Linked DNA regions of Homo sapiens: regions 2, 3, 4, 5, 6 and 7 are each linked to region 1. The links come from fine-mapping of genetic effects on gene expression. A gene starts in region 1. Each other region holds a variant in brackets. All regions are shown on one strand. Distances are between the middles of the regions.

Region 1 (4,067 bases):
AGTAGCTGGGACTACAGGCATGCACCACCAGACCTGGCTAATTTTTTTGTATTTTTAGCAGAAATGGGGTTTCACCATGTTGGTCAGGCTGATCATGAACTCCTGACCTCAAATAACCCACCTGCCTCGGCCTCCCAAAGTGCTGGGATCACCTGCCCCAGCCTCCCAAAGTGCTGGGATCACCTGCCCACTCCCTTGGTGAGGAGCCCCCTAGGGCACCTCCACCTCCTAGAGCACAAATGTTGTTGAGATGAGCAGCTTGAGACATGGTATGGACCTATGCGGAGGTGTCCCTAGACAATGATGGCATCAGAGTGAGAGGCTGGATGAGGATGTGTCTGGGGGAGCTTCGAGGTGCTGTGATATGTAAGAGATCATTAATTACAGGATGCCACCCCAAGGAGAATATGCATGGACCAAAGATGAGGGGTCCCCAGGAGGGTAAACCAATAGTAATGCCCCCAGATTCCATTCCTAGCCAGGCTCCCTGCTAAGTGACAATTAGAAAAATTCCTCTTTACAGAAAACAGAGCATCAATTAGGTCCCCAACTACAGAGCCAGTCCTCTACCCTCCAGTGAAACTTCCAGTGGGCAAGAAAAGCTTGGGAAAGCCAGAAGGAATAGGAACCACAGCTCAGGCCGGGCCGAGGCTTCATAAATCAAAAGGACATTTTTTTTTTAAGAGATAAGGTCTCACTCCATCACCCAGGCTGGTGTGCAGTGACCCAATCATGCCTCACTGTAGCCTTGAACTCGTGAGCTCAAGTTATCCTCCCAGCTCAGCCTCCTGAGTAGCTGGGACCACAGGTGCACACCAACACGCCTTGCTAACTTTTATTTTTATTTTTGAGACACAGTCTCGCTCTGTCACCCAGGCTGGAGTGCAATGGTGCGTTCTTGGCTCACTGCAACCTCCACCTCCTGGGTTCAAGTGACCCTCCTGCCTCAGCCTCCCAAGTAGCTGGAATTACAGGTGCACGCCACCAGGCCCAGCTAATTTTTGTATTTTTATAGAGACAGGGTTTCACCATGTTGGCCAGGCTGGTCTTGAACTCCTGACCTCAGGTGATCCGCCCACCTCAGCCTCCCAAAGTGCTGAGATTACAGGCGTGAGCCACCGTACCCAGCCCATGGCTAATTTTTAAACTTTTTTGTAGAGATGGAGTCTCACTATGTTGCCCAGGCTGGTCTCAAGCTCCTGGCTTCAAGCAGTCCTCCCACCTCAGCCTCCCAAAGTGCTGGGATTACAGGCATGAGCCACCATGCCCAGCCGCAGAAGGGCAATTATTACACAGTGACAGTGGAAGGAACAGAGACACAGTCGGTGGATGGTGGGAAGATAAGAACATTCACTCTGAGGGCTTCTAGTAACGTTGGAGAAGTGAGCATCAGCTTAGCAGAAGGGAGGGAGGGAAGGAAGCACAGGAGGTTTGAGGAGAGAGAGAGAGGAAGTATGAAATCAGAGCTGCACTTCAATGTGGTGGCTATTGGCCATGTGTGGCTACAGGATAGCTGGAATATGGCTGGTCTGAACTGCGATGTGCTAGAAAGGTAAAATACAGGGTTAGATTTAAAGATTTAGTTCCAAGAATATATACACTACATTAATAATTACATATTGCTCCTATACTAAAATAATATTTTGGATATATTGGGTTATTAAATGGTTAGAATGAATTTCACCTGTTTCTTCTTTCTTCTTAACTACTAGAAAATTTAGAATTCACACATGGCTCACATTTTATTTCAGACGGTTGCCTTACAAGGCAAATGCCGTCTGGGGAGGGCCTGGGTCAGCTCAGGGAGGAAGCTCTGCCTGAAAAGGCTTAGGGTTCACTCTACATTCAGCCCAGCATCTGAGCACGTCTTCTGTCAATCAAGGCCTGAGAGGGTGGGGCCCTAAACATTATCCAATCAGGGACGCTGGGCTGGGACCCGTCCAATCAGGCACTCAGCTGGAGCAGACAGGACGGCTTCCGGGTTTGGTGGGGCCTTTGTCTCTGGCGGCAGCCGGAGCTTCTGGTGTAGTCTTCACTGCTCTGTGTCTTCTGCTCCTAGAGGCCCAGCTTCTGTGGCCTCGTTACCTGCAGGTATTGGGAGATCCACAGCTAAGACGCCAGGACCCACTGGAAGCCTAGAAATGGTGAGAGTGCCGGGTCCGACATCCCGAGAGAGGGGGCGGGGCTGGTTGGAACTGGTGGGAAGTGGCTGTGGCGGGACTCTGGCCTCCCCGCAGCTGGCTCCAAAATCCGCGGCCCCGAGTTCTCCTTGGCGCAGCTCGGCCCTCAGTCCCCTTCAGCCATAGGATGGCGGCCGGGCTGACAGCTCGGACCCCGGGCATCCTGTCTCCTCCCTGCGCAGTGACTGTGCCTTGTTCTGGAGTCCTCTGTGGGCAGCTCTGCCCCCACTGCCGCAGCTCTCCCCGATTGTGCAGGGACCACTGGACGGTCGTCAGGGGAGAATACTGACTCAGGATGCAGAGTTCATGAATGGGAAGAGCTTTGGTCTGCGGGGTTCCCAGTCCCCCTTTTTTTCTATTAAAAATTTGTGGAAGTCTCCGCAGAAATATTAAAGAATTTAATTAAAGAGTAATTCAAGAATTGTAGAGCACCAAGCTATGTTTTGTAGTTTGTGGTTTATGGAAGGGGCTTGAAGAAAACACTTTTATAAAGTGCATGATAAAGGAAAGCAAATTCAATAATTGGTTAGGTAAAGTTATGTAGTTTCTTAATTTGTACGATCAAGGTGGAAATTCCCTGGTCATGTAATGAGAGGTTAATTGGCAGTTTATAGTTGGTTAAGCCTGAATTTTATTTTCCCCCAATGTAATACTTTAGAAAAAAATCATTCGAGTTAGATTTTTTTGCAAGTAGCAACCCTAGGACTGGAGCCACCTCAGTCTAATTGCCTGCCACTTAATTATTTTCACACTCCACAGGGCACTGATTTTCCTCTGCATTTTTCACTTCTGTCTCAAGCAGGGTCTCAAGACTTCTCCCCATTTCCCATTCCTCCAGCCTAACTCTGGCTTGCAGTAAAATACTAAATTTCCAGTTCCTTCTGACATTCCCAAATGCCAATTTCCCCTCCCTAATTCACATTATCAACTATTTGTCCTTTAATGTACACTTTAGTGTACATTTTAGGTACCATATTTTAATTAATCATTTTTTGACAAAGCATTGGCTGGCATTTTAAAAAAGATTTGTTTTCTGTTTGTAAAGATTTCCCAAGAGAAGAAAGCAAAGAATAATCCCCTGACACTGTATTGTAAAAAATGTTCTGTGCCTCCTTTCCTTTTATTGCCTCTAGCCACAGAAACCTTATCAGAATATTTTTGGGTCAGGGTTTCCCTTTGGAAACTTTATAAGGTAATGTGTCCTCAGCCACCCTTCAGTTTTTTCCCTGGTTCTGGGTTTCAGTACTGTCTGGGGATAAATCAAGATATCCACTGTGGCTGTGTATGCTACAATGTCTAGTAAATTTCAGCTCCTGGCCTGGAATGAAACTTCGCATATCTGGGAATGGGAGACAGGACAGCCTGAAGTTGGAGTGTAGCCTCTCAAGGGAGCAGGTGGATGCCCTGAGGCTGAGAGGAGTCTCCTGGGGTACTCTTCCTTTGAAAAGCAAACCCTTAGAGAAGTTAAGATTGTCTTCAAGCAACCCGGGTTCCATTTCTCGAAGACACATTGCTGGTCAGCCAATCAGATGGTGGTAATGAGGGAAAAACAAATAATTACTGCCACCTGGATTCTCCAAGAATTATGAAAGAGAAAATAGTATCCCAAAAGACAAAAAAAAAAAAAAAAAAAAAATCAAACCTGGCCCCAGTGAGATGGTGCAGCAACTTGCAAAGTGAAATGCACCTTGGGGCACTCAATGGGGCCTAGTACAGTGTCTCTGGAGAGGGTGGTCACTGAGCACTTAAGTGAGCAGGATGGGGGTGGGAGAATCTCTCAAGGGATTGGGTGGCCTGACTTGACATATGAGTCAAACACATCTGTTTTTTAATGAGCACCGTAGCTCCCTGGGTTTGTCACCTTGAAAAGGTTTGTTCACTTATTTT
Region 2 (4,067 bases), 75 kb before region 1:
AGGCAGGAGAATCGCTTGAACCCGGGAGGTGGAGGTTGCAGTAAGCCGAGATGGCGACATTGCACTCTAGCCTGGGCAACAAGAGCGAACTCCGTTTCAAAAACAAAAACAAAAAGATATTAGCCAGATGTGGTGGCGCCTGTAATCCCAGTTATTCAGGAAGCTGAGGCAGGAGAATCGCTTGAACCCAGGAGGCGGTAGTTATGGTGAGCAGAGATCATGCCACTGCACTCCAGCCCAGGTAACAGAACAAGACCCTGTCTCAAAAAAAATAGGGCTACATTATTTATGAAACAGATACTGTTGACTCAGTCACCAGAAAGTGAAGGTCGCCAACATCAGACAAATTCACTGGAGGACCTATGTATGTGCTTTGAAAGACAACACTGCTTTGGTAAAGAATACTGTATTTCAGAAAAACATAATCATATTAACAACTAATAACACTGTAAAATGCTGATGTGTTGAATGCTACTTTAGAAAAACATGTTCAAGTCTAGGAAAAAGATTTCCGATAGAAAACTACGTATCAATTACCTAGCTAGCTAGCTATCTAGAGACAAGGTTTCATTCTATTGCTCAGGATGGAGAGCAGTGGGATGACCATAGCTCACTGCAGCCTTCAGCTCCTGGCCTCAACTTATCCTCCTGCCTCAGCCTCTTAAGTAGCAGGGCCACAGGTGGACACAGGTACACCTGGCTTTTTTTGTTTGTTTTGTATAAACAGGGTTTCACTACATGGCCCAGGCTGGTCTCAAGCTCTGGAGTCTTGCTCTGTCGCCCTGACTAGGGTGCAGTGATGCTTCTCGGCTCACTGCAACCTCCGCCACCTGGGTTCAAGAGATTCTCCTGTCTTAACCTCCTGAGTAGCTGGGACTACAGGCATGCACCACCATGCCCGGCTAATTTTGTATTTTTAGTAGAGATGGGATTTCTCCATGTTGGTCAGGCTGGTCTTGAACTCCCAACCTCAGGTGATCAGCCCGCCTCAGCTTCCCAAAGTGCTGAGATTACAGGTGTGAGCCACCGCGCTCGGCCTAATTTTTGTATTTTTTTGTAGAGACTGGGTTTCACCATATTGGCAAGGATGGTCTCAAACTCCTGACCTCAGGTGATCCACCCGCCTCGGCCTCCCAAAGTGTTGGGATTACAGGCGTGAGCCACCGCACTTTCTTATGTTATTAAATAGCCTAGCCCAGGAGGGTGCGGTGGCTCACGCCTGTAATCCCAACAACTCTAAAGGCCAAGGTGAGAAGATCGCTTGAACCCAGGAGTTCGAGACCGGCCCGGGCAACATAGCAAGACCCCCCCATCTCTACGAAAGATACAAAAATTAGGCCAAGCGTGCACCGCGCCTGGCTAATCTTTGTATCTTCCGTAGAGACGGGGTTGCGTCATGTTGCCCAGGCGCATCTCGAACTCCTGAACACAAGCCATCCTCCTGCCTCGGCCTCCCAAAGTGCCGGGATAGCACGGCCCAGGCAGCCTCATGTGTTCTTTAAGCAGTCCCTCCCGGTTGTACACTTGCATAGTTTTCTTTTTTATTTTTTTATACAGGGTTTACCTCAGTCTCGCAGGCAGGAGTGCTGTGGTGAGATCACAGATCATTGGAGCCTTGAATCTTGGGGTTCAAGTAGCTGGGAGGCTGAGGTTGGACTACAGAGGTGGGGTTGCGCCATATTGCTAGGCTGCTCTTGGCCTGAAGGGATCCTCCTTCCTGGCCACGCCCGGACACATAGTTTTCCATTTTTGACCGACATAAATACTGTGCTGGGTGGGAGTTTGTCAACTACCCCTTTCCAGCCAGCAACACACAGGAACTGGCGGGGAGGTCGCGGTTACCAGGCTCCACTCTGAGAAGACTGCCCAGCTCCAGGCACTGTACAGCCCTTGTGACGTGACAGAAGGCCCGCCCCTGTGACGTCACCGAAGGCGCCCCCCAAGATGTCGCAAAGGCCCGCCCCTCACGCAGAGCCAATCG[G/C]AACTCCAGGTGCTGGGTCTTCCAGGAGAGCGCCTGCGCGGGAGGGTGACCACAGGCGGCCGGGCGGGATGTCCTGTCCGCCGTCTTCAGCCCAGCCGCCACCACCCATAAGCTATGAGGAGGAGTTTACGACCACCTGGACTACTACCACCTGCGTGACTTCCCGGCCTGAGGGGTCCGCGCAGCAAAGGCCTGACGCTGCTGGAGCAGGCGCTGCGCACCTACCGGCTGGCGCCTGGTAGGCACGAGTGCAGGGTCGCCCAGAAGCTCCTCAATGGCCGGCGCAAGTGCCAGCCAGCGCCAGCTGCAGCCCTGGCCGCGCACTCGCCTCAGCTGAGCCTGGGTATGTGCACCCCCCAACACTTCCCCCAGCCATGTTCCCGGGACCTCGGGAGCGTCCCCCACCGCCCGGTGCCATTCGTGCTGGGCAGGGTCGGCCCCCTTTGAGGCTGCCCCGCGTTAGGGAGCTGCACCGCACCCCCACCAGCTTGACCTCTGACTGCCGTTGCAATAGCATTAAAGCCTTTGGAACTTTGTAGGTGGGTAGAAGGGGCTAGGAAACGAAGAAAACATCTTTTTAAAAATTTATATAAGGGACTGGCCGGGTGCGGTGGCTCACACCTGTAATCCCAGCACTTTAGGAGGCCGAGTGGGTGGATCACCAGGTCAGGAGTTGAAGACCAGCCTGGCCAGCATGGTGAAACCCCGTCTCTACTAAAAATACAAAAATTAGCTAGGCGTGGTGGCGGGCGCCTGTAATCCCAGCTACTCGGGAGGCTGAGGCAGAGAATTGCTTGAACCCGGGAGGTGGAGGTTGCAGTGAGCCGAGATCGCGCCATTGCACTCCAGCCTGGGCAACAAGAGCAAAACTCCGTCTCTAAATAAATAAATAAGATTTTCAAGGCGAGGCATGGTGGGTCACACCTAAATAAGTAAATAAATAAATAAAATGGATTTTCGGCTGGGCATGGTGGCTCACGCCTGTAATCCCAGCACTTTGGGAGGCCGAGGCGGGCGGTTCATGAGGTCAGGAGATCGAGACCATCCTGGCTAACACGGTGAAACCCCGTCTCTACTGAAAATACACACAAAAAAAAATTACCCAGGCGTGATGGCGCGCGCCTGTAGTCCCAGCTACTGGGAAGGCTGAGGCAGGAGAATGGCGTGAACCCGGGAGGCATAGTTTGCAATGAGCCGAGACCGTGCCACTGCACTTCAGCCTGGGTGACAGCGAGACTCCGTCTCAAAAAAATAAATAAATTAAAAAAATAAAATAAAATGGATTTTCAAGGCCAGGCATAGTGGGTCACACCTATAATCCCAGCACTTTGGGAGGCCAAGGCAGAAGGATTGCTTGAGCCCAGGAGTTCGAGACCAGCCTGGGCAACAGGGCAAAACCCTGTCTCTATCAAAAGCACAAAATAAGCTGGGCATTATAGTGCACACCTGTAGTCCGAGCTACTCAGGAGGCTGAGATGGGAGGATGGTTTGAGCCCGGGAGGCAGAGGCTGTATTGAGCTGAGATCATACCACTGAACTTCAGCCTGGGTGACGAGCCAGACCCCGTCTCAAAAAAAAATAATAACAATAAAAATAAATTCATATAGTTTGGTATGGTTTAGTAAGTTTCAGCAGGCAGATTGTCAGGGTAAGATGGATTGTTATATATACATTTATATATATAATATGTATATTTATATACTTATTTATTTTAGCAGAGATAGGGTCTCCCTATGTTGCCAGGCTGGTCTTAGACTCCTGAGCTCAAGCAATCCTGCCTCGGGTTCCTAAAGGAAGCTCACATTGGAGGTGTGAGCCACCACACCTGGCCTATAAGGGGAATTTAAGGGACTCTCTACTATGATGTCCCTTCTCCCAATCCCTTTCCGCATGTAGAAGAGGGTTCTGTTGAGTGACTGGCATTTGCTTATATTTCTCAGTGCTATGCCCAGTGTAATGGAAAAGGCACAGACTGGCTCAAGAGCCCAGGGATTTCAGTTCCAGGCCAAGCTCATCCACTGACTGACAGAGTCAGTCAAACTTGTTTGGATTTCAGATTCTTCATCTGAATAACGTAGATAACACT
Region 3 (4,067 bases), 500 kb before region 1:
ATCTAGTTAGTTTTGAAGACAGGATCTAGAGATTATTTCATATGAAATAGGTCACCTGAAATGAAGTGTTTACTGAAAACAGCTTGGATCAGCCCAGTTTTCTACCACTGAACCATGCATTTGGTTTAAAAAACACAACAACTCTGGGGAATATTGGCTGCTTCCAACTGTGTTGAAGGTGTTAAAGAAAAGAGCATAAAAAATGATCATCTGAGGCCTTTATAATCTCTGCTCAAGAGACTAGAGTGTTCCATTCTTAAAGAAACACTCAAATATCTTAATAATCGGGCAAAATCTAAATATCAGAGAGATAATTTTATCTTGAAGGTTGTTAAATTATAATGGTTATTCACTACCTTGCCACGTCTCTGAGTCAAAAATTAGATCTTTGTTTAGGAATCAATGGTACTCTGCAACTTGGAAATAGGAAGATTTTAGAAGACTCAAACATTGACTTTCTTGTGTGCAAAAAAAAAGACGTATTGAGATAAGACAAGTTTTTCCTTGCAAGGATACCTCTAATGCTAATACACCACCTCCCCTAATGTTAATATAGCTTCAAGATCACCAACCAGTGTCAGAGAGCAGCCTATGCAACTACAAATTCAAAAGATGTCGAACACAGGGTCAAGCCTAGAATAAGAAGTCTTAGCTAATTAAGTATGCTTTTTTCCCCAGATCCATATTAACAAAAACTTGGATATGTCAGAGAATGCATTCTAAGTTCACTCAACCTAGGAGGGAGAAACATAATTTTAAATTAAGAGCTGAAGCATTCTTGCCCTAACAAAAAGCAAGGAAAATCAAATATCACACCACAGGCGGGATTTCACAAATTAGTGTCAACATCCAAACCTTAAAATAGGCAAGGAAAATGCAGATTCACAATTAACTCTTGTACTTGTTTTGTTCAGAGAAGAGATGGTTCTGAGAGAATGACAGTGAATTAACCCCAACTGGTTTAGTTGGTACTTTCAATTGCTGCTTCTGATAAACTCCTTTAGCTAGAATAAATTGATTAGGATTTTGGCATGTGATATTAGAGATGGTTATTAATTTTTTCCTCTTATTTGCATTGTTCAATGTAGTAAATACTAGCTGTATATGGCTACTTAAATTCAAATTAATTACAATGAAATGTACTTAAATAATGAATTTTTTAGTCACTGTTGGTTCATTAATGAATATCTTCAGCTAAGATTTCCCAACTAAATACACTAAGAGGTGGCTTAGTTAACTGGTTGTCCACAAAAATTGAGGCTGTTAACTCCTGATATATTCTCTGCAAATAGAATATTCAGTGAGCCTCCTCCTGAAACCAGCAGCCTAGAGATAATTTTATAAATTGGATACAAGTTGGAAATCTATAGTCTTTAAGTTTTTGAAATATCAGCTTCCCAGGGAAGAAAACCAAATTCATAAGATATGTTAGGACAATTTAACTCAAGATGTTCAAAACTGAAATGACATATTCTACAATATGTGATAAAACCACCCCCTAACAACTTAAAGCAAAACAAGGATTGACCTTAAAGACCTGCCTTTTCCTCATCCCCCAGCCAGTTTTCAAATCTTGCATTTTTGAAAGGTTCTTATCCCCCTAGTCTCTTGTTTCTAGACTTTGCACATATTCAAGTTTGTTACGTCTATTTACTGACTTTCCTCTCTTCAAACAGTATCTATGTCTGCCAAATGTGAACATACAAAAAACAAATCAGAATGTGCCATTCTGATTTAAACTGCTTATTAGTTAATACCCTCAAGATAACATCTAGGTTCTTAGCTGCACTGAGTCAAGCCCACTTACATCTTTGTTTTCGGGTGCACTTTTCCTATCACATCACACTCCAGCAATGCCAAGCTGTGCCAGCCTTCTACCTCCTTTCCACTATTTTGCCCCCGCCGAAGCGGCCTTTGAAGCTTTTCGTCCCCCGGCGCCGC[G/A]GCTTTTTGCCACCCCGGGTTTTTGCCGCCGCGGCTTTTTGCCCCCGCCGCCGTGGCTTGCTGCCGCCGCTGCCGCGGTTTTTTGTGGTTTTTTACCCCAGCTCCCACTGCTTTTTGCCCCCACCGCGGCGGCTTTTTGCTGGTTTTCGCCCCTGCCGCCGCGGCTTTTTGCCCCCGCCTCAGCGGCTTTTTCTCGCCGCGACTTTTTTCACCCGCACCGAGGCTTTTGCAGCTTTTTGCCCCCTGCCGTCGCGGCTTTTTGCCTCCGCCGCCGCGGCTTTTCGCCCCCGTCGCCGCGGCTTTTGCGGCCTTTTGCCTGGGCCGCCGCGGCTTCTTGCCCCCACCGTCGCGGCTTCTTGCCACCGCTGCTTTTTACCCCCGCCACCGTGGCTTTTTGCCCCCGCTGCCGAGGTTTTCTGCCGCCGCTGCCGCGGCTTTTTGTGGTTTTTTTGCCCCAGCTCCCACTGCTTTTCGCCCCACTCCGCCGCGGCTTTTTCCCCCGCCGCCGCGCATTTTTGCCACCGCGGCTTTTTGCCCCCGTCGCCGCTTTTTGCCGCTGCAGCTTTTTGCCCCCGCTGCCGAGGTTTTCTGCCGCCGCTGCCTCGGCTTTTTGTGGTTTTTTGCCCCAGCTCCCACTGCTTTTCGCTCCCCCCTCCGCGGCTTTTTGCGGCTTTTAGCCCCCGACGCCGCGGCTTTTTGCGCCCGCCGCCGCGGCTTTCTGCTGCCACGGCTTTTTGCCCCCCGCCGCCGCGGCTTTTTGCCCCCCGCCGCCGCGACTTTCTGCCCCCGCCGCCGCGGCTTTTTGCTCCCGCGGCATTTTGCCCCCTGCCGCCGCGGCTTTTTGCCCCCGCCGCCGCTTTTTGCCGCCGCGGCTTTCTGCTCCCGCCGCCGCGGCTCTGAGGGCGGGAGCGGCAGACTCCGCTGCCAGCTCTACTGGCGTCCTGGCAAGGGCAGCGCCGAGGGGCTCTCCCGGCTCGGGGGTTCCTTGCCTAGGCGCCCGAGCCCCGGGCTCCCTGCCTCGGCCGCTGTGGCCTGCATAGGGCGGCACTGCGCGCGGAGGCGATGGGAGAGAAGAAGGAGGGCGGTGGCGGGGGTGATGCAGCGGCCGCTGAGGGTGGCGCAGGGGCCCCGGCCAGCCCGGGGCTGCAGCAGTGCGGACAGCTCCAGAAGCTCATCGGCATCTCCATTGGCAGCCTGCGCGGGCTGCGCACCAAGTGCGCTGTGTCCAACGACCTCACCGAGCAGGAGATACGGACCCTGGAGGTAAGGGGTTTGGGGACCCGGGCTGGGCTCGAGCAGCGGCCCGGACACCTCCCTTGGGGCCCCAGTTCACTCCTGGCCGAGTTGCATCCTTGAGCCCGCGTCGCGCCCTTGGAGGCTTCCCCTCCCTCCTGCACTCGCTGATGCGGCAGCCGAGAGACCCGGGACCAGCCCTCACCTTGGGCAGGATTTGTGGGGCGGGTGCTTGGTGGGAACTGGGATGGAGGCGCTAGGGTCCCGTGGGGCGGGGAGGGTGAGGGTGGGCTGCGCGCGGACATCCCCTTACCCCCGAATTTCCATCTGGTCCGGCCCTCTCATCTTGTAGGTGAGGAAACCAAAGGCCCGAGGGAGAACTGACTTGCCAGGAACCCCTGTTAAGGAGAATTACCAAAGTGTGGTTATTAAAGGAGAACTGAGTTGGGAGTCAGACCTGGAGTCCCACACCCTTGGTTAAGTCATTATACCACCTTGAGTCTGGCCTGTTGACTGAGGGTGAGCCACTCCATCCTCGTCTGATTGTGGGGTCTTGACCTCAAGGGGTTTCGTGCAGGAAGAAGCAAATGGGTTTGCTTTCCTAGCTCTGTCCAGTACCTTAGGGACCCTGAGGACTGAAGCGATTCTTGGAGAGCCATCTGGTGTATGTCATGCGTGGGCCTTTCTTGAAGGTCTGTCTGCCCAGTGGGCTGGCTCAGCCCGAATGAACTGTCTTGAATCTTTGGAGTTGTCTGTGTACTTTTAAGGGCTTCTCATCCTTGCACCAAAAGATCCCCTGGAAATTAGGTGGGAAAACCTTACCTTTTGTGGGGCCTTGTGTTTGTCTTAAAAGTTCATGCACATGGCCAGGTGTGGTGGCTCACACCTGTTAT
Region 4 (4,067 bases), 140 kb after region 1:
GCTCTATCTTTTGTTGTCTTAATGTATTCCTAGCCCTATGACTGCTTTAGGGATGAGAAGAGCACTACTTTGCAAGTCATGGGTTCTAGTCCCAGTTCTGTCCCAAACTTTCTGTGTGACATTTGTCTGAGCCTCGGCTTTTTAAATTGCAAAATGGGACACAAGCCCCTATTTTGCAGAGCCTCACAGGATGTAAAGATCAGAGAAAAGATAGGTAGAAAAATATTTTTTAAACTCTAGAGTGTTGTATGAGAGTGAAAGATTGCCGGTTACCTAAAATCCTGAGAAAGAACATGCCAGCTTCCAAATCAATTTTTGTACTTTTTCATTTTCTTCTTCAACTTTAGATACAAAAAATATTTTTGGGTTGGGGGCAGGGGGGAGGGATAGCATTAGGAGATATACCTAACGTAAATGACGAGTTAATGGGTGCAGCACACCAACATGGTACATGTATGCAGATGTAACAAACCTGCACATTGTGCACATGTACGCTAGAACTTAAAGTATAATAATAAAACAATATTTTTATTAGGTATGCTTTTAAGAGAATCCTATTGAAAACCAAACCAGTGGGTTTTTTGGAAAGTATTTTAATTTACCCATTTGTGTTAAAAATATTGCAGTGTAAGTATGCATTTCTAACTTTAATGATAATTTCTCTCAGCTCCTTTAACATTTATTTCTCTGATTTTTGGCTCTGTGCAAGGTTTGAAAACTTTACTTTCATTTTTGTAAATTATCTTTATTCTTCTCACAGATTTGTAGTGTTTTTCTTCTCCTTGGTGTTATGCAGCCCGTTTTAAGTAATTTATTTTTTTATTTTAAGGAATTAATTTTGTTATTTTTCTCTTTTTGGAACACTGCACATTTGAATTCAAGCACTTATATCTGGTTTTCACTTGATTTTAGCCAAAAGGCTGAGAAGTAATTATGTCTGCTTTTCAATTTTAGAAACTTATGAGTCACCAACTCTGAATACTGACTTTGATTTTGAAAATATATTCTATAAAAATAATCAGACTTGTTTTACTCCATCTCATGCTCCCTGTCATACATGTATATTTTAGATTTTGTTAATATAACTTTTCTCCTTTTGTCTTTACAGTAATTAATTACTGCTTAGTGTTCTAGTTCACTAATCTTCTCATCATTTCAGACTAATTTAATGTTTCACACATATGTTGTATATTAAGTAGACTGATTATATTTTCAATTGTTTACTTCACATTTGGCTGTTTTTTCTTTTCTTTTCTTTTTTTTTTTTTTTTTGCCGGTCTCAGTTTTTAATCATGGCGGGGCCTCAAGCACATGCACGCGTGCACACACACACACACACTCACACTCAGTCTTCAGATCTTGTTGAAAGCTGCAATGTCAACATTCTGCACGTGTTCTTCAAACTTGATGATCTCCTCCTCCAGCAAGTCTGTCCCCACCTTGTCATCCTCCACTACACACTGAACCAGCAGCTTCTGGATACTATAGCCCACGGGCACCAGCTTAGAGGCCCCCCCAGACCAGCCTGTCCAGCTGGATGGAGCACATACAGGCCTCCAGCTGGGCCATGTTAGTCTCATCATCCCAAGGCTTAATGTCCAGCAGGATGGACGACTCGGCCACCAGCATGGGCTTCTTGGCCTTTTTCTCTGTGTACTGCCGCAGCCGCTCCTCCCGCAGCAGTACTGCCTCCTGTCCTCCTCCTCATTGTCACTGCCAAACAGGTCAATGCCAAGACCAGCTTGGTTGGGGAGACCCTAACCCAGTGGCGCTAGAGGAATTAAAGACACACACACAGAAATATAGTGTGTGGAGTGGGAAATCAGGGGACTCACAGCCTTCAGAGCTGTGAACCTCAAACAGAGTTTTGCCCACATATTTATTGACAGCAAGCCAGTGATAAGCATTGTTTCTATAGATCATAGATTAACTAAAACAGGAAACAAAGCGATGGGCTGAAACAAAGGGATGGGCTCTGGCTAGTTATCTGCAGCAGGAACATGTCCTTAAGGCACAGGTCGCTCATGTTATTGTTTGTAGTTCAGGAACACCTTTAAGTGGATTTCCCACCCTGGGTGGGCCAGGTGTTTCTTGTCCTCATTCCGGTAAACCCACAACTGTCAGCATGGCTGTCATGCCCATCACTAACATGTCACAGTAGTGCAGAGATTTTGTTTATGGCCAGTTTTGGGGCCAATTTATGGCCAGATTTGGGGGCCTATCCCCTGTAGGTCAATGTCATCGTCCTTGTCATCCTCTGCTGGTTTGGCTGGCTTCTTGGCCAGGGGCTCCACTTGGCACATAGGAGACTCGTGCTGGGTCTGCAGGGCTGTGGTGGCCAGGCAAGCTCTTCTCCAGCA[C/T]GTTCAGTGGGGCCTCCAGCTTGGAGATGGCCTGCTGCAGCTCCTGCACAACCCTGCGCAGGCTCTGGTTCTCCACTTCCAGACTGGTGATCTGAAAGATGAGCTCAGCCTTGTCTCCGCTGGGGCTGCTGGAGGCCCCGGGGCCTGAGCTTCTGGCCAGGGATTTCTGGAAATGCTCTCTGGCTCTCGCAATGTCATGGAGGATCATGCTGGCGCCGTTCTCCTGGCGGGAGGTGCTGGCCACAGCCTTGTTCATCTGCTTGAAGAATCTCCTTTCTGCATTGTCACATTTTAACTTGTTGAACCAGATCTTCTCATGTACTAGGAAGTTTGTAGCCACTTTTCTGATGCCAGCCAAGGACGCAGTGACCAGGAAGGAGGAATCAGCAGATGCGGGACGCCTGAGGAAAGGCTGGCTGTTTTTCAAATATGGCTTGTTGCTGGGTGTGGTGGCTCACACCTGTAATCCTAGCACTTTGGGAGGCCGAGGCGGGTGGATCACCCGAGGTCGGGAGTTGGAGACCAGCCTGACCAACATGGAGAAACCCCGTCTCTACTAAAAATACAAAATTAGCTGGGCATGGTGGTGGGTGCCTGTATTCCCAGCTACTTGGGAGGCTGAGTCAGGAGAATCACTTGAACCCAGGAGGCAGAGGTTGTGGTGAGCCAAGGTCATGCCATTGCACTCCAGCCTGGGCGACAAGAGTGAAACTCTGTCTCAAAAAACAAAAAAACAAAACAAAACAAAAAAACCCCCACATGCACAAAAAACAAACAAATATGACTTGTCACCCTTGTAGCTTCTTGTACTTTTCACATTATTGGTATATTTTCTGTTTTCCCCATTGTGTTGGATTAAACATTTTAAACCTAAGTCCTGTAACTGTGGGTAATATAAGTTGTAATTTGTTTCTCGCTTGTGAAAGATATTACGTTTGCAATGTCTGCAGTTAGTTTATGTTGTTACTTTTATTTTTATTTTTGTAGAAAAGGATTTTTATTTTTTTTTAGGGTGATTTTTAAAAGTTCTAGGGTACATGTGCACAATGTGCCGATTTGTTACATATGTATACATGTGCCATGTTGGCGTGCTGCACCCATTAACTCGTCATTTACATTAGGTATTTCTCCTAATGCTATCCCTCCTCCCTTATGTTGTTATTTTTTCATTTGTCTAATGGCAAGTTGGACAACCCACAGAAATTTTTTATTTGTGTGTTCACCCATATCTAAGAAGAACAATTGCTTCTTAGTTTAATTACATTCTGGATTCTTCCTTTGGCTTTCTTTTGTACCTGGAAAGTTCTCATATGTTTCTTTATATTCTACTCAGGATTTTAAAGGTTCTTGTAACTTTCTCAGAATTTTAGCATGTAAATTATTTTTATATTTAAAGATTTCCAAATATATAATATCTTTCCAAAATGCACAAATATCAACAGCATATACCTGAGGAAAATATTTTACAATTTTCTTGTGTGGCAGACAATAACATCTTATGAGAAATCTCAAGTTACATCAGTTAGAACATATTCTTTCCTCAATATACCAAAAAAAATTTTTTTTTTTTTGAGATGGAGTCTCACTCTGTCACCCAGGCTGGAGTGCAGTGGAGCGATCTCGGCTCACTGCAAGCTCTGGCTCCCGGGTTCACGCCATTCTCCTGCCTCAGTTTCCCAAGTAGCTGGGACTACAGGCGCCCGCCAC
Region 5 (4,067 bases), 300 kb before region 1:
TTTCTGATGTCTGGGGGCACTTTGCCTTGTAAGAGTCATGTTTACCATTCTGACATTTTTGGGGTCCTGTGGATCTAAGTCTGTATACTTTCTATACATTTGACAGATCTGTTCCATAAATTCTGAGGGGTCCTCATTAGGTTTCTGCTGAAGTTCCTGCACTTTGTTCAGACTTTTAGGTCTCAGCACCCCTACCTAATGTCCTTTAGAATACACCTTTTACAATGCTACAGACAATTATCTCCAGCTACAATGGCCTCATTTGGGTCCAAATTTGGGTCACTGCATGGAATCAGCTCATCAGGGTCTAGGGTATCATCAGGGCTTTCATCATGAAAGTGCTTTTTTTTCTCCTTTGTCTAATACTAGCCTTCTCTCATCTGCAGTAAGCATAATATTTAGGAGGGCTTGCACATCAGCCCAGGTAGGGCAATGGGTGGCAAAAATAGTGGTAACTGTTCAGTCATCTTCTGGGGTTCTTCCCTGTAGGAAGGACTGGAACTTTTCCAATTCAGTAAATCAGATGTGGGAAAAGGGCTTCATGCTCAGTAATATCCAGCCAGAGGCTCTTGCTGATTAACTCCCGTGGGATATTGTCAGAAGGGAAATTGTCCTGCCCCAGGCTTGGTAGCTCCTCAGCCAAAATTAGTGCCTTGCCCAGTTCAGGAGGGAGAGACTGTGTCTGTAGCCTCTTTGAACTTTGGGGGTGGTGACTCTTCACTCTCTTGACTAGGTGGTGGGACACTAGCTTTTACTGGATTAGGCATGTATAGCAATTGCTGACTCTAGCTCTTTTTCTTTCTTCCTCTCCCTCAGGGTCAGGTGACACTTTGTCTGGGTAATGCAACATTAACTCACTCCCTTTAACCTCTTGGTTATGTAGCAACATAAGTGCCTGAATGTAGGGGAATTTTTAAACGCTTCCTCCCATTTCCTCAAACATTGACAAAACAGCTGTAACTGAAAGATATAATAGCTTAAAGACCCCAAAATTGGCCACCATTTTTTGGATCCTAAAGCATACATTAGCCAAACCATATTACAATAGTAAACCATTTTCCTCTTAGTCATGGGGGTAACCTCGTACTATTTCCAATCTGACAGCATTTTTCCCAGAGGGCTCCCTGAGGGAAGGAAAGCAGCACTTTCCATTTTAAGTCTGACAAAACCACAGACATGAACATGGAGACAGTTTCAGACAAACACAAAAGGAAGCGTACTTGGGTAAAACAGATCTGAAATCAGCTTCAGGTTTACTCCTAACCAAATAGCAACTGAGTATAAAAATGAGCCCTACTATTTTCCTGACGGTATCAGACCAAACGGCTTAATAAGCCCAGATAAGAAAATAACAGGCTTCCTGCATATGATCCAGTTTTACTCACCCTTTGAGTGCATCCACTCCTGCCTGATCACCATTCTTCCCCAGTGGTGAGAGGGACATGTGGTTTTTGCACATGGAATAGCCCCTGGGAGAGTCCCCAGGACAATCTTATCCAGCAGCTTCTGGGAGTCTCCAAATGACCATCTCGCCACAATCACGGGCCACTGAGTGCAGCACCATTTCAGTGACTCTTGGCTAGCTTGCCAGATGTTGTTCCTGGACCAAACTGGGTCTGGCTGTGTGTTCTTGTGGCCCAATAACAAGATGCAGACAAACTGGGAAAGAAGAGAGTTTATTTCTGTAAACAAGTACAGGGAGGAGGTCAAAGATAATTCCCCAGACCAACTCAAGACTAACAAACATTTTTCCATTGCTTATATATGTTTCAAACTGTATGCTTATGTGCAGTATCATACTGACCTATGTCTACAGGTAAATAATTTTAACTAAAAGCTCAGAGACCAGAAATGTACCCTAAATCTACTTAATCTACGAGGGCCCTGGTACTAGGGTGATTAAGAAATGTCCCCTATTTTTGCTCTACTTAATCTGTGAGGGCCCTGGTAGAGGAGTGATTAGTTCTATCTTATATTACCTATGGTTTGGGTCTGGAGAGTTGCCTCAGATGCCCAATAAATTTATTTGACCCAAGATGGGTCCTGGTACAAGGAATGTGGGGCTATCTTCATTATCTTGACTTGCCCCAGGTTTTAGGAGAAACTTGCGCAAGACTCTTACCAAACATATATTTCATTTCTGGCTTTGGTGTCCAGGGATTGATGTTTCTAGGGTTAAGTACTAACTTAATGTTAAGGCAGATGCTGTGAAAGTTTGCCTGTATAACTTGAGTGCTATGGAGGCCTGTCTGTGTGACTGCTAGAAAAAAATTGGCCTGTCACACTAATAGGAGTGTGTATTCAGGGAAACTGTAATCTGTGCTCCCCTGTGGCCACCCTAAATTTT[G/C]CCATACCTAAACTCTAAACAAGATTCTGACTTTTTGATTATATTAAGTTGATGGTTCTCAGTCTCCACTGACCCTGGGAGAGAAACAGAATCATAGGACAATTCTCAGTGTGACAGCCTCTGTGCAGGAGAACAGAGCCTCCCTTCCATGAGACACCCGGAGTCTACCCCCAGCCCAGACACCCATCTGAAAAGCACTGGTCGAGACTCACAGGCAACCACACGTTCTTACCTCCCCTAATGTATCTCACTAGAGACACTTAGGCCAAATCTCAGAAGCCTGAGCACAAAAACTAACTGCCTTTCTTTCGGGTATTTCTCAGGGCATACTGTCAGGAATCATTTCCACATGAGAATGAAGGTGTTTTTATCCAAGAATGCAACAAGGGAGCATGGTTTAATAACATCTGGTTGGAATGGATGGAAGCCCTTAACAAAGATGCCATTATGCAGTGATGATACACAAAGCAAGTTGTGAAACATGTCAAGTAACAAATTAGATTATAGCACCATCGAAATGTGATTCTGTTGTTTTTGCTTACTTTCTGTGTGTTTTTTCTATTATGTTACAATATATCCCCTTTAAGTCCTTGTATTTTCTCATTTAAAAGTCTAGGGCTGGCCAGGTACGGTGGCTAACGCCTGTAATCCCAGCACTTTGGGAGGCCAAGGTGGGTGGATCACCTGAGGTCGAGAGTTCGAGACCAGCCTGACCAACATGGAGAAAACCGTCTCTACTAAAAATACAAAATTAGCCAGGCATGGTGGCGCACACCTGTAATCCCAGCTACTTGGGAGGCTGAGGAAGGAGAATTGCTTGAACCCGGGAGGCGGAGGTTGTGGTGAGCTGAGATCGCGCCATTGCACTCCAGCCTGGGCAACAAGAGTGAAACTCCATCTCAAAAAAAAAAAAAAAAAAGTCTAGGGCCAGGTGTGGTGGCTCATGCCTGTAATCCCAGCACTTTAAGAGGCTGAGGTGGGTGGACTGCTTGAACCCAGGAATTTGAGATTAGTCTGGGCAACATGGTGAAACCCCATCTCTAGAAAAAATACAAATGTTAGTTGGGTGTGATGGTGTGTACCTGTGGCCCCAGCTACTTGGAAGGCTGAGGTGAGAGTATTGCTTGAGTGCGGGAGGATGGATTGAGTCTGGGAGGTGGAGGTGGCAGTGAGCTGAGACTGTACCATTGCACCCAGCCAGGCAGCCAGCCAGACAGAGTGAAACTCTGTCTCCAAAAAAGATCTATTGCTTAAGCTAATTTTTAAAAAATTTTATTTTTCAAATATACTTTGAAAGCAATGACTCTTTAAAACATTATCTAAAGATTTTATACTCAAAATACCATTATAGTTTAATATTTCTGTTGCAAAAAATTTTACTTCTTGGCTGTGTTCTAAAGTTTTATATCTAAGGTATTTTTAGAAACATTTAGTTCAAAAGAGTGACGATACTGTGGTCAACATGTGCAAGATTTTAAATGAGAAAATAACCATTTTATATGCTGTGAAAAAAATCTCATAGCTGTAACTGGTTAGAATTGACATGAAGGCAGCTGTCTTAATGCAAACACATACAAAGAAACAGACAAGCAGAGCACCACTGTGGTTTGCACCAGGCAAGATAAGGAGAAGAGGGAAGGCTGATGCAAGTGTGGTTAAGGACTGAAGCTTAGGTGGTCCCAGGAAAGCCTCGCTGAGAATTAGGTTTTAGTAATTAAGT
Region 6 (4,067 bases), 120 kb after region 1:
GTGTAAATCAAACACCGCCCCCCTCATCAGGCATCTATAAAATCCCATGCATTTCACTGTGGATCCTGCAGCCCATTTGGGACCCCTCTCTCTGCAGCACAGGGAGCTTTTCTCTTTCTTCCACCTATTAAACTTCTGCTCTTAACCTCACTCTTGTGTGTCCACATCCTAGTTTTTTATGACCATTAGGCAACAAATCTCGGGTATCACCCCAGAAGAACAAGGCTGCTTCATTAGGTTCCTGGAAAATGACACTGAACCCCTGTCCTGGGGAAGACAGAGGATGCCCATCCAAGGTCATGGATTCATTCCTAGCTTCTCTTCTATTTACAATAAAAAAAAGAATAGCTGATATTACTGAGCACTAACTATGAGCCAAGCACTGTTGCTAAGCAAATTACATAATAACTCATTTAATCCTCCCTCAGCAACTCTGGCAGGTCTAGCTGGTTCCAGTGTTTATTTTCCATTGTTTTTCCAAGTGTGGCAGCATTCAAGAGAATTGTTTTCTTTCCTTTTAGGGTTGAATACTGTTTTTTTTGTCTATGAAAGAGGATACTCTGATTTCTCCCAAATGATAAGTTTAAATTTTGTTGCAATATCCAGTGATTTCTTTTCACTGGAAGGAAAGGAGGCATGCAGTTTTATTTCTGTCAGCCTGCTCAGGGCCACAGAGGTGTGGACACCTAGGAGCCAGGGTCATTTTCTGAGGACAATGAGAGTCATTGAAAGGCACAAGTAGGTGAGGGATGGATTGGGCTGCTGGTTTGAAAGTGCAACATGGAGCTTCCTAAGGCACAGGCAGCTTGGAGGCAGAGAGGCCAGTGAGAGGCAGGAGCAGCAGCCCAGGCTGTCACCAAGGAGGGGACAATGTGGTAAAAATGGAGAAATGCACATGGGTCTGAAAGGTTTAGATAAATGTGGATTTCAGCACCTCCTCTCCCACACCCCACTTATCAGCTGTGAACCTGGGGCAAGGCACTCTTTTCTGTGTCTTTATGACTTAGCTGAGGTGACCACTAAGTAGGAAAAGTGCCTGGCTGGTGATACATAATAAGTAGCTGCAAGTGGTAGCTTTCTTCCCTACCCACTTGAAGCAGAAATTGGTGACCAGTTTTTCTCTCTGAGTCATCCAGCTGGCACCAGAGAAATTCTGATGCTGCTTGTTCAGACAGGGCCACAACGATGTCTGGGTGACATGGCAAATCTGATCCTTGGACCAGTTTGGAAAAGATGGGGAAGGAGACAGAGCCAGAAAAACTGGGCCAGATGCCTGGATTCCAATCATACCCAGGCCTAGGCCCCTCTGGTTCTGGCTGTGCTGTGCCTGTCTGGGTCCTGAGCCAAGTGATACTTGGTTCTTACCCACAGGAAGGTCACCATAGACCAAGGAAAACTCACAAATACAAATACACCATCTTCTCATGCTGAGGCTTTATTAAGCCCCAGTGGCTACTCTGGGAGAGAGGTGCCATTGTCTCCATTTTAAAGATAAGGAAACCACAGCTTACAGAGAGATATGGCCAGAGTTGTCCAGCCTCGGAGTGACTGAGGCAGAACCAAAGTCATAACTTGTCCAGCTGCAAGGCTTGAGTTTTCAGCCTAGCCCAGAAGACATCATCCTGCCCAGGCCTGGCTGCAACCTCACCCACCTGTGACTCATTTCTGGGACCACTGGCAGAAAGAGGAGGCTCTATTTTGAGCAATGGGGAGCCCA[G/T]GCCAAGCACAGCCATCTGCCCCTGCAGAAATGAGTGGGGCTGAAAGCTTCATGGTTTCCAGGTTTTCATATCTACCCTGAGCCAACAAAGGCTTGTGGCTGTTGGCACACAGGCAAATTGTCCAACCTCCAGATGGAGCAGAGCAACGGTGAAGGAAGCCTGCTGGTTCTTGTCTCACCTCAGCCACTTCTGAGCTCTGTAGCCTTGCACCAGCCTTTGCCCCATCACTGAGCCTGTTTTCTGCCTTACAATGGGGACACTGATACAAACCACACACACAATGAGGATGAAAACAGATAACAGGTAAAATGACCTCACCTGCCAGGGAGTCCATGCTCAGAGGACTCTCATGCTCTTGGATGGAATATTTCCTCAGAGAAATAGAGCTTGGGGGTCAGGGACATGGGACCTGCCACTGACCTGCTCTGTGACTCTGAGACAGTGGCTTCCACTCTCTGAGCTCAGATCCCCACTGGGCAGGCTGCTCTGATCTTCTATGTCCCTGTGTTGGGAAGGGAGTTCGTCCTCCCCAGCTTGTCAGGGAACCCTTGGCCATGGCTGAGGGCAATCTGGCCCCAGTGCCCTGGCTTATTGGAACAGCAGGAAAAGGCAAACACAAAACCCAGACCGCAGCTGATCACGGAACCTGCTCTCCTTGACCCACAAGGATTTGTTGTGATCCAGCCAGCCTGTGACTCTGTCCACATGCTGCTCCTCTGCAGGGATGCTGCTGTTCACTCCTACTCTACTGAGACACGCAGATGTCCTGGCATGGGAGAATTCCCTCTCTCTCTCTCTCACACACACACACACACACACACACACACACACCCCTAACCTGCTTCCTCCAGGCTCCTAAATCACCTGTCCACAAAACCTGTCTTCAGCGGCCCCTTAGCCTGTGAGCTGCCCTCATTCCCCCTCACAGCCCTGAGTGAGGGTGTGCAGCCTCCTTGGGCAAGAGGATGCGGGCTCTGGGAGGCTGCGTCGCACATCTCCAGTCCCCACTGCAGGGCCTCTCACCGGCTGGGGCAGTGACCCCTGGTCGGAAGCACCTCAGTGCTGCTCATGATTGCAGAGGTGGCCTCACCAGATAGAGGGTCCTGGAGGGCGTGGGGGCTTGGTCTCTGACTGCCAGCAAAAGAAGCCGACATAGAGGCAGCAGGCGACAAACACTGAGGCAACTGACTTGCCCGAATTTAACCCTCAGGTTTTTTAAATAAAATGCAAGTGCAGGGGCTTGGGCTCGGGACTCCTGGAGCCCCGTGGGGCTGAGCGTGGATGGTGCTCGGTGTCCAGCTACACTCCCAAACCGCATCCCGAGCGTTTGCGGGGCGGAGGGGCCCCAGGGCGACGGTTCCAGAACAGACCCAGGCGGCTCCGGTCAGCAGCAGCCCCGCTGCTTTCCAACAGCGCGGGGACCCCCATCCCCGCCAGCCCCATCTCACTGTCCCTCTCAGGTCAGAGGAGACCGTAGAGGACCGCGTGGCACCAGGAGCTGCCAGGAACCAGGGCGACCTAGAAGAAACCGGGAACCTGGCGTCCCGCGGGGACGCAGCCCCAGGAAAGGTGAGGCCACCCGAGCCCGAGTGGGAAGGGGCTCCGCGCTCCTGGTCACCCGCAGGAGCCGCACGGCCCTGCCAGATGACCCCGGGCCGGACCCTCAGCACCAGCTGTTGGGGCGGAGGGGACGCGGTGGGTACGGCTCAGGCACCGGCGGGCGAGAGCCTGGACACTGCCGGGAGCCCGACCTCCCGGCCCTTTGCGGGCGGGGAGCGGGGCCAAGGAACAGCGCCAGCCCCTCTCCACAAGCCGGTGACCCCATGACTGCAGGGGCTGCCGCCGCCAGCAAGTGAGCTCAGCTCAGCCCGGGCGTCCCCTCCGCAACGAGGCCCGGATCCCTGCTTGGCTCCCGGAGCCCGGACTGTGCCTTCCGCAAAACGGCTGCGCTCTAGGTAGGAGAAACGTTCTTCGCTTCCTGCTTTGTGGACACTCGGTTCCTTGTAGGCGGTTCTGCTTGGCCCCTTGCCCTTATTAACCTTGACCACGGCGGCTGGGTGGACAGGGGCTGGACACCCTGGGCTCCACCAGAGTTTTCTCTTGCAGGGTGACTTGGACTCTGGCACTCAGGGCCTCCGTTTCCCTGGCAGATAGATGAACATGGCTTGAGCAACTTTGTGTTCAGACGGTTTCTTCTTTCCAGAAAGTGGCCTCCACAGTGCACTTCCCGGCAGCATGGAGTCGGCAGTGGCAGCGTTTCTATCCGGCTCTGCGGGGCTGGGTGTGAACGGGACTCTCCCATCCCGCTGTCCTCCAGGAGCCGGACCTCTCACCCCGAAGACTTTGCCG
Region 7 (4,067 bases), 42 kb after region 1:
GACTATATGGTTAGTCACATGCAGAAGAAAAAAACAACTCTTACCTCTCAGCATATAAAAAATGTAACTCAAGATAGATTAAAAACTGAACATGAAGTTTCAAGCTATGAAAATCCTATATGAACACCTAGAAAGTACTCTTGTGGACACTGGCCTCTGAAAACAATTTGAGACTAACACCTTAAAAGTAAATGCAACAAAAATATAAATTGACACCTAATTAAACTAGATCTCCTGCACAGCAAAAGAAATTTGACAAAGTAAATGGACAAGCTACAGCATGGAGAAAAATATTTGCAAACTGCATACAACAAAAAAATTAATATACAAAATCTATAAGAAATGTAATAGGAAAAAAGCACAGAATATATCAATAGATACTTCTCAAAGGAAGATATAAAAGCTGTCAAGAAACATGCAAAAAGTTGCCCAACATCTCAAGCCATTAAAGAGATTAAATCAAAATGACAATGTGATACCATCTCACACCAGTTAAAATGGCTGTTATTAAAAAGTAAAAAAAAAAATAGCATGTTGTGGAGAATAGGGAATGTTTACACAGTCTTTGTGAGAATGCAAATTAATTCAGCCTTTTGTTGATTAATTCAGCCTCTTGTTGGAGCCTCTACTTCAACAAAAGATGCCATGAATTTCAAGTTATTATGCTGACACATATATTGTCTCTAGAAGGGTTCTGGTTTTTTTGCAATCAAGGTGTAGCATTTCTGGCTTCCCTTGTGCTGCTTTGTTTGTGTGAAATAGGAAGGTAGGAAGTAAAACCAAGTAAACCATGACATTTCTATTTTCTACAGCCACAGCATCTGAATTCTAGTGTTATGTCAACTAGAAATAATGTCAGTATTTCAAAACTGACAAAAAGAAATTGATACTTTATCTTTTTAAATGTTTTTATAGATTATAAAAATTTATAGTTTCTGAATTATATAAGTTAAACAACCTGAACATGCAGATACCTAAAAGTTTTACCTAGATAATAGTATTAATATTTTAATAGGTTATGATTGTGAGTCACAGTTGCCCCATTGAGTTTACTGGAAAGCGGTTATTTATCTTCTGAGTGTATGTAGAGAATAGGCTTTCATAATCCTAAACAAAGAGATCTTTTAAGATTAGCACTATATTTAGATTTGAATAAAATTCATAGGCTTGTAGTAACAGAAATTTTAATATATTTTCTAATAGAAAAAAGTCAATCGAAATAAGTTATTCAGATGAGTTTTAAAAAACTTCACGTGTTCATTAAATAACATTTAAAATTACATTGTAAGTGACTGATTTGTAATTCCAATCTATTTCATTTTAGTCACTGAGAAAACAATATCCTTAAATTATTCAATCAGAAAAAGTATTCTTATATTAGTGTTTCTGAAACTTTCAGAAACTGTAGACCACTCAGTGGATGGGGAGGCATATGCAGACCACAAATTTTCTATGTAATAATAGGTTCATCTTAGCTTTAATATAAAAATTAAATATATTTCAAAAGTAAAATTAGTGGCTTTTTTAAGTCATGAGAGACATATTATTGTTAGAACCCATTTGCCAAATTATTTGTGTTAGGCTTAGTAATAAGTGCTTTCAACCAAAAATCAAGTTCTACATACTATCTCAGGGTAAAAAGAAAGTGGTTTTTATCTTATTTATTTTTACCAATAAAATATTTTTATTTTTAAACTGTTATTTTAGATTTAGAGGGGGTACACCTAGCCTTTCTAGACTTCCTTAGTAATTGGTAAATTTCTCTTTTTATTTTGTCATTATTACTTTTTCTGCACTCAGGCTGGAGTGCAATGGCGCAAACATTGCTCATTGCAGCCTTGAACTTCTGGGCTTAACATATTCTCCCTCCTCAGCCTCCCGAATAGCTGAGACCACAAGCACAAGCCTGTGTGCCCAGCCCATTATTATTACTTTTAATGTCTGCTAGTTCCTGGGGTGCACAGAGATTTAAAGGTCACATTCTTCCAGGGTTTGGGCATAACATGAGCACTGGAATTAAATAGGTAGGTCCCACAGGGAAGGCAGTGCCCAGGAGAATAGAATCTAGGTGTGGGTGTGACCACTCTCCTTCTCAACTTGGCTCTTTCTTCTTGTTTGAAGAGACAGAGTAATACTGGGAGGCAAAAAAGGACCATTGGCTTGGGGTCAGAGGGTGTGATTTGAGGTCTGGAGTTGATCTCTTAAAGGCTATGTGAAGTTGGCACTGTCTCCAACCTTTCTCCTGCAAAATGAGAAAACAAGGCTGGATGAACTGAGTTCGCTTTCAGTCTTTTTTTTTTTTT[TA/A]AGTTTTTTATTTCCATAAATTTTGTTTAACAGGTGGTATTTGGTTACATGAGTAAATTCTTTAGTGGTGATTTCTGAGATTTTGGTGCACCCATCACCTGAGTAGTATACACTGAACCCAATTTGTAGTCTTTTACCTGATGCCTTTACATCCTTATAGTTTAGCTCCCAATTATGAGTGAGAACATACAATGTTTGATTTTCCATTTCTGAGTAGTATTCAATTATATATATACATACATATATATATATATACACATACATATATATATATATATATGTATATATATCCACAGTTTCTTTATCCACTTGTTGATTGATGGGCATTTGAGTTGTTTCCACATTTTTGCAATTCCAAATTATGCTGCTATAAACATGCGTGTGCAAGTTTTTTTTTTTTTTTTTAAATAATAACTTCTTTTCCTCTGGGTAGATACCCAATAGTAGGACTGCTGGATCAAATGGTAGTTCTCCCTTTAGTTCTTTAAGGAATCTCCACACTGTTTTCCATAGTGGTTGTACTAGTTTACATTCCCACTAGCAGTGTAGAAGTGTTTCCTTTTCACTCCATCCACACCAACATTTATTATTTTTTTATTTTTTTATTATGGCCATTCTTACAGGAGCAAGGTGGTATCACGTTATGGTTTTGATTTGCATTTCCCTGATCATTAGTGATGTTGAGCATTTTTTCATGTGTTTCCTGGCCATTTTTATATCTTCTTTTGAGAATTGTCTATTTATGTCCTTAGCCCACTTTTTGACGAGATTTTTTTTTTCTGGCTAATTTGTTTCAGTTTGTTGCAGATTCTGGACATTAGTCCTGTGTCAGATATATAAATTGTGAAGATTTTCTCCCGCTCTGTGGGTTGTTGTTTACTTTGCTCACTTCCTTTGGCCATGCAAAAGCTCTTTAGTTTAATTAAGTCCCAGCTATTTATCTGTGTCTTCATTGCATTTGCTTTGGGGTTCTCGGTCATGAAATCCTTGACTAAGCCAATGTTTAGAAGGGTTCTTCTGATGTTATCTTCTAGAATTTTTATAGTTTCAGGTCTTAGATTTAAGTCCTTGATCCATCTTGAGTTGATTTTTGTATAAGGTGAGAGATGAGATCAAGTTTCATTCTTCTACATGTGGCTTGCCAAGTATCCCAGCACCATTTGTTGAATAGGGTGTCCTTTACCCACTTTATGTTTTGGTTTGCTTTGTCAAAGATCAGTTGGGTGTAACTATTTGTGTTTATTTCTGGGTTCTCCATTCTGTTCTGTTTGTCTATGTCCCTATTTTTATACCGGTACCATGCTGTTTTGGTGAGTGTGGCCTTATTGTGTTGTTTGAAGTTGGGTAATACGAAGCCTTTTGATTTGTTTCTTTTGCTTAGTCTTGCTTTGGCTATGCAAGCTTTTTTTTTGGTTCCATATGAATTTTAGGATTGTTTTTTCATAGTTATTTGAAGAATAATGTCAGTACTCTGATGGGAATTGTATTGAATTTGTAGATTGCTTTTGGCAGTATGGTCATTTTTAGAGTATTGATTCTACCCATCTATGAGCATGGGATGTGTTTTTATTTGTGTCATCTATTGCTTTCAGCAGCATTTTGTAGTTTTTCTTGTAGAGGTCTTTCACTTCCTTGGTTAGGTATATTCCTAAGTATTTTATTTTTTGTGCAGCTATTGTAGAAGGGGTTGAGTTCTTAATTTGATTCTCAGCGTGGTCGCTTTTGGTATATAGCAAAGCTACTAATATGTGCACATGGATTTT

Evidence for each region.
Region 2: its variant is fine-mapped to the expression of ERV3-1 in whole blood (TOPMed, PIP above 0.99).
Region 3: its variant is fine-mapped to the expression of ERV3-1 in cerebral cortex (GTEx, PIP 0.97). The same link has a PIP of 0.9 or more in hippocampus.
Region 4: its variant is fine-mapped to the expression of ERV3-1 in pancreas (GTEx, PIP 0.94). The same link has a PIP of 0.9 or more in thyroid.
Region 5: its variant is fine-mapped to the expression of ERV3-1 in prefrontal cortex (BrainSeq, PIP 0.95).
Region 6: its variant is fine-mapped to the expression of ERV3-1 in spleen (GTEx, PIP 0.95).
Region 7: its variant is fine-mapped to the expression of ERV3-1 in whole blood (INTERVAL, PIP 0.98).

What each region holds. Positions count from the first base shown.
Region 1 is chr7:65,004,618-65,008,684 of GRCh38, reverse strand. ERV3-1 (endogenous retrovirus group 3 member 1, envelope) reads left to right here and starts at 1,998. Exons shown (of 2, transcript NM_001007253.4): 1 at 1,998-2,144. ERV3-1-ZNF117 (ERV3-1-ZNF117 readthrough) reads left to right here and starts at 1,939. Exons shown (of 4, transcript NM_001348050.2): 1 at 1,939-2,144. It overlaps LOC105375330 (a long non-coding RNA gene), which reads left to right. Exons shown (of 6, transcript XR_927607.1): 6 at 1-11. RefSeq lists a silencer at 1,738-1,907 and an enhancer at 2,008-2,067.
Region 2 is chr7:65,079,204-65,083,270 of GRCh38, reverse strand. No RefSeq gene overlaps it. Among named protein-coding and RNA genes, the nearest start is that of SNORA15B-1, 11 kb to the right of the region's middle. RefSeq lists an enhancer at 1,782-2,676. The variant G/C (reference allele first, on the strand shown) is at 1,982.
Region 3 is chr7:65,507,915-65,511,981 of GRCh38, reverse strand. It overlaps the pseudogene LOC101929322. Among named protein-coding and RNA genes, the nearest start is that of ZNF92, 140 kb to the right of the region's middle. RefSeq lists an enhancer at 1,797-2,795. The variant G/A (reference allele first, on the strand shown) is at 1,942.
Region 4 is chr7:64,861,656-64,865,722 of GRCh38, reverse strand. It overlaps the pseudogene EEF1DP4. Among named protein-coding and RNA genes, the nearest start is that of ZNF273, 40 kb to the left of the region's middle. The variant C/T (reference allele first, on the strand shown) is at 2,361.
Region 5 is chr7:65,301,121-65,305,187 of GRCh38, reverse strand. LOC105375334 (a long non-coding RNA gene) reads right to left here. Exons shown (of 6, transcript XR_927613.3): 2 at 1,386-1,659. Among named protein-coding and RNA genes, the nearest start is that of ZNF92, 71 kb to the left of the region's middle. The variant G/C (reference allele first, on the strand shown) is at 2,348.
Region 6 is chr7:64,888,672-64,892,738 of GRCh38, reverse strand. It overlaps LOC441239, which reads left to right and starts at 2,639. Exons shown (of 3, transcript XM_011516745.3): 1 at 2,639-3,287; 2 at 3,552-3,673; 3 at 3,922-4,067. The coding sequence starts at 3,000. It also overlaps a transcript of ZNF273 not described here. RefSeq lists enhancers at 2,240-2,956, 3,675-4,067. The variant G/T (reference allele first, on the strand shown) is at 1,718.
Region 7 is chr7:64,962,402-64,966,468 of GRCh38, reverse strand. No RefSeq gene overlaps it. Among named protein-coding and RNA genes, the nearest start is that of ZNF117, 27 kb to the left of the region's middle. The variant TA/A (reference allele first, on the strand shown) is at 2,304.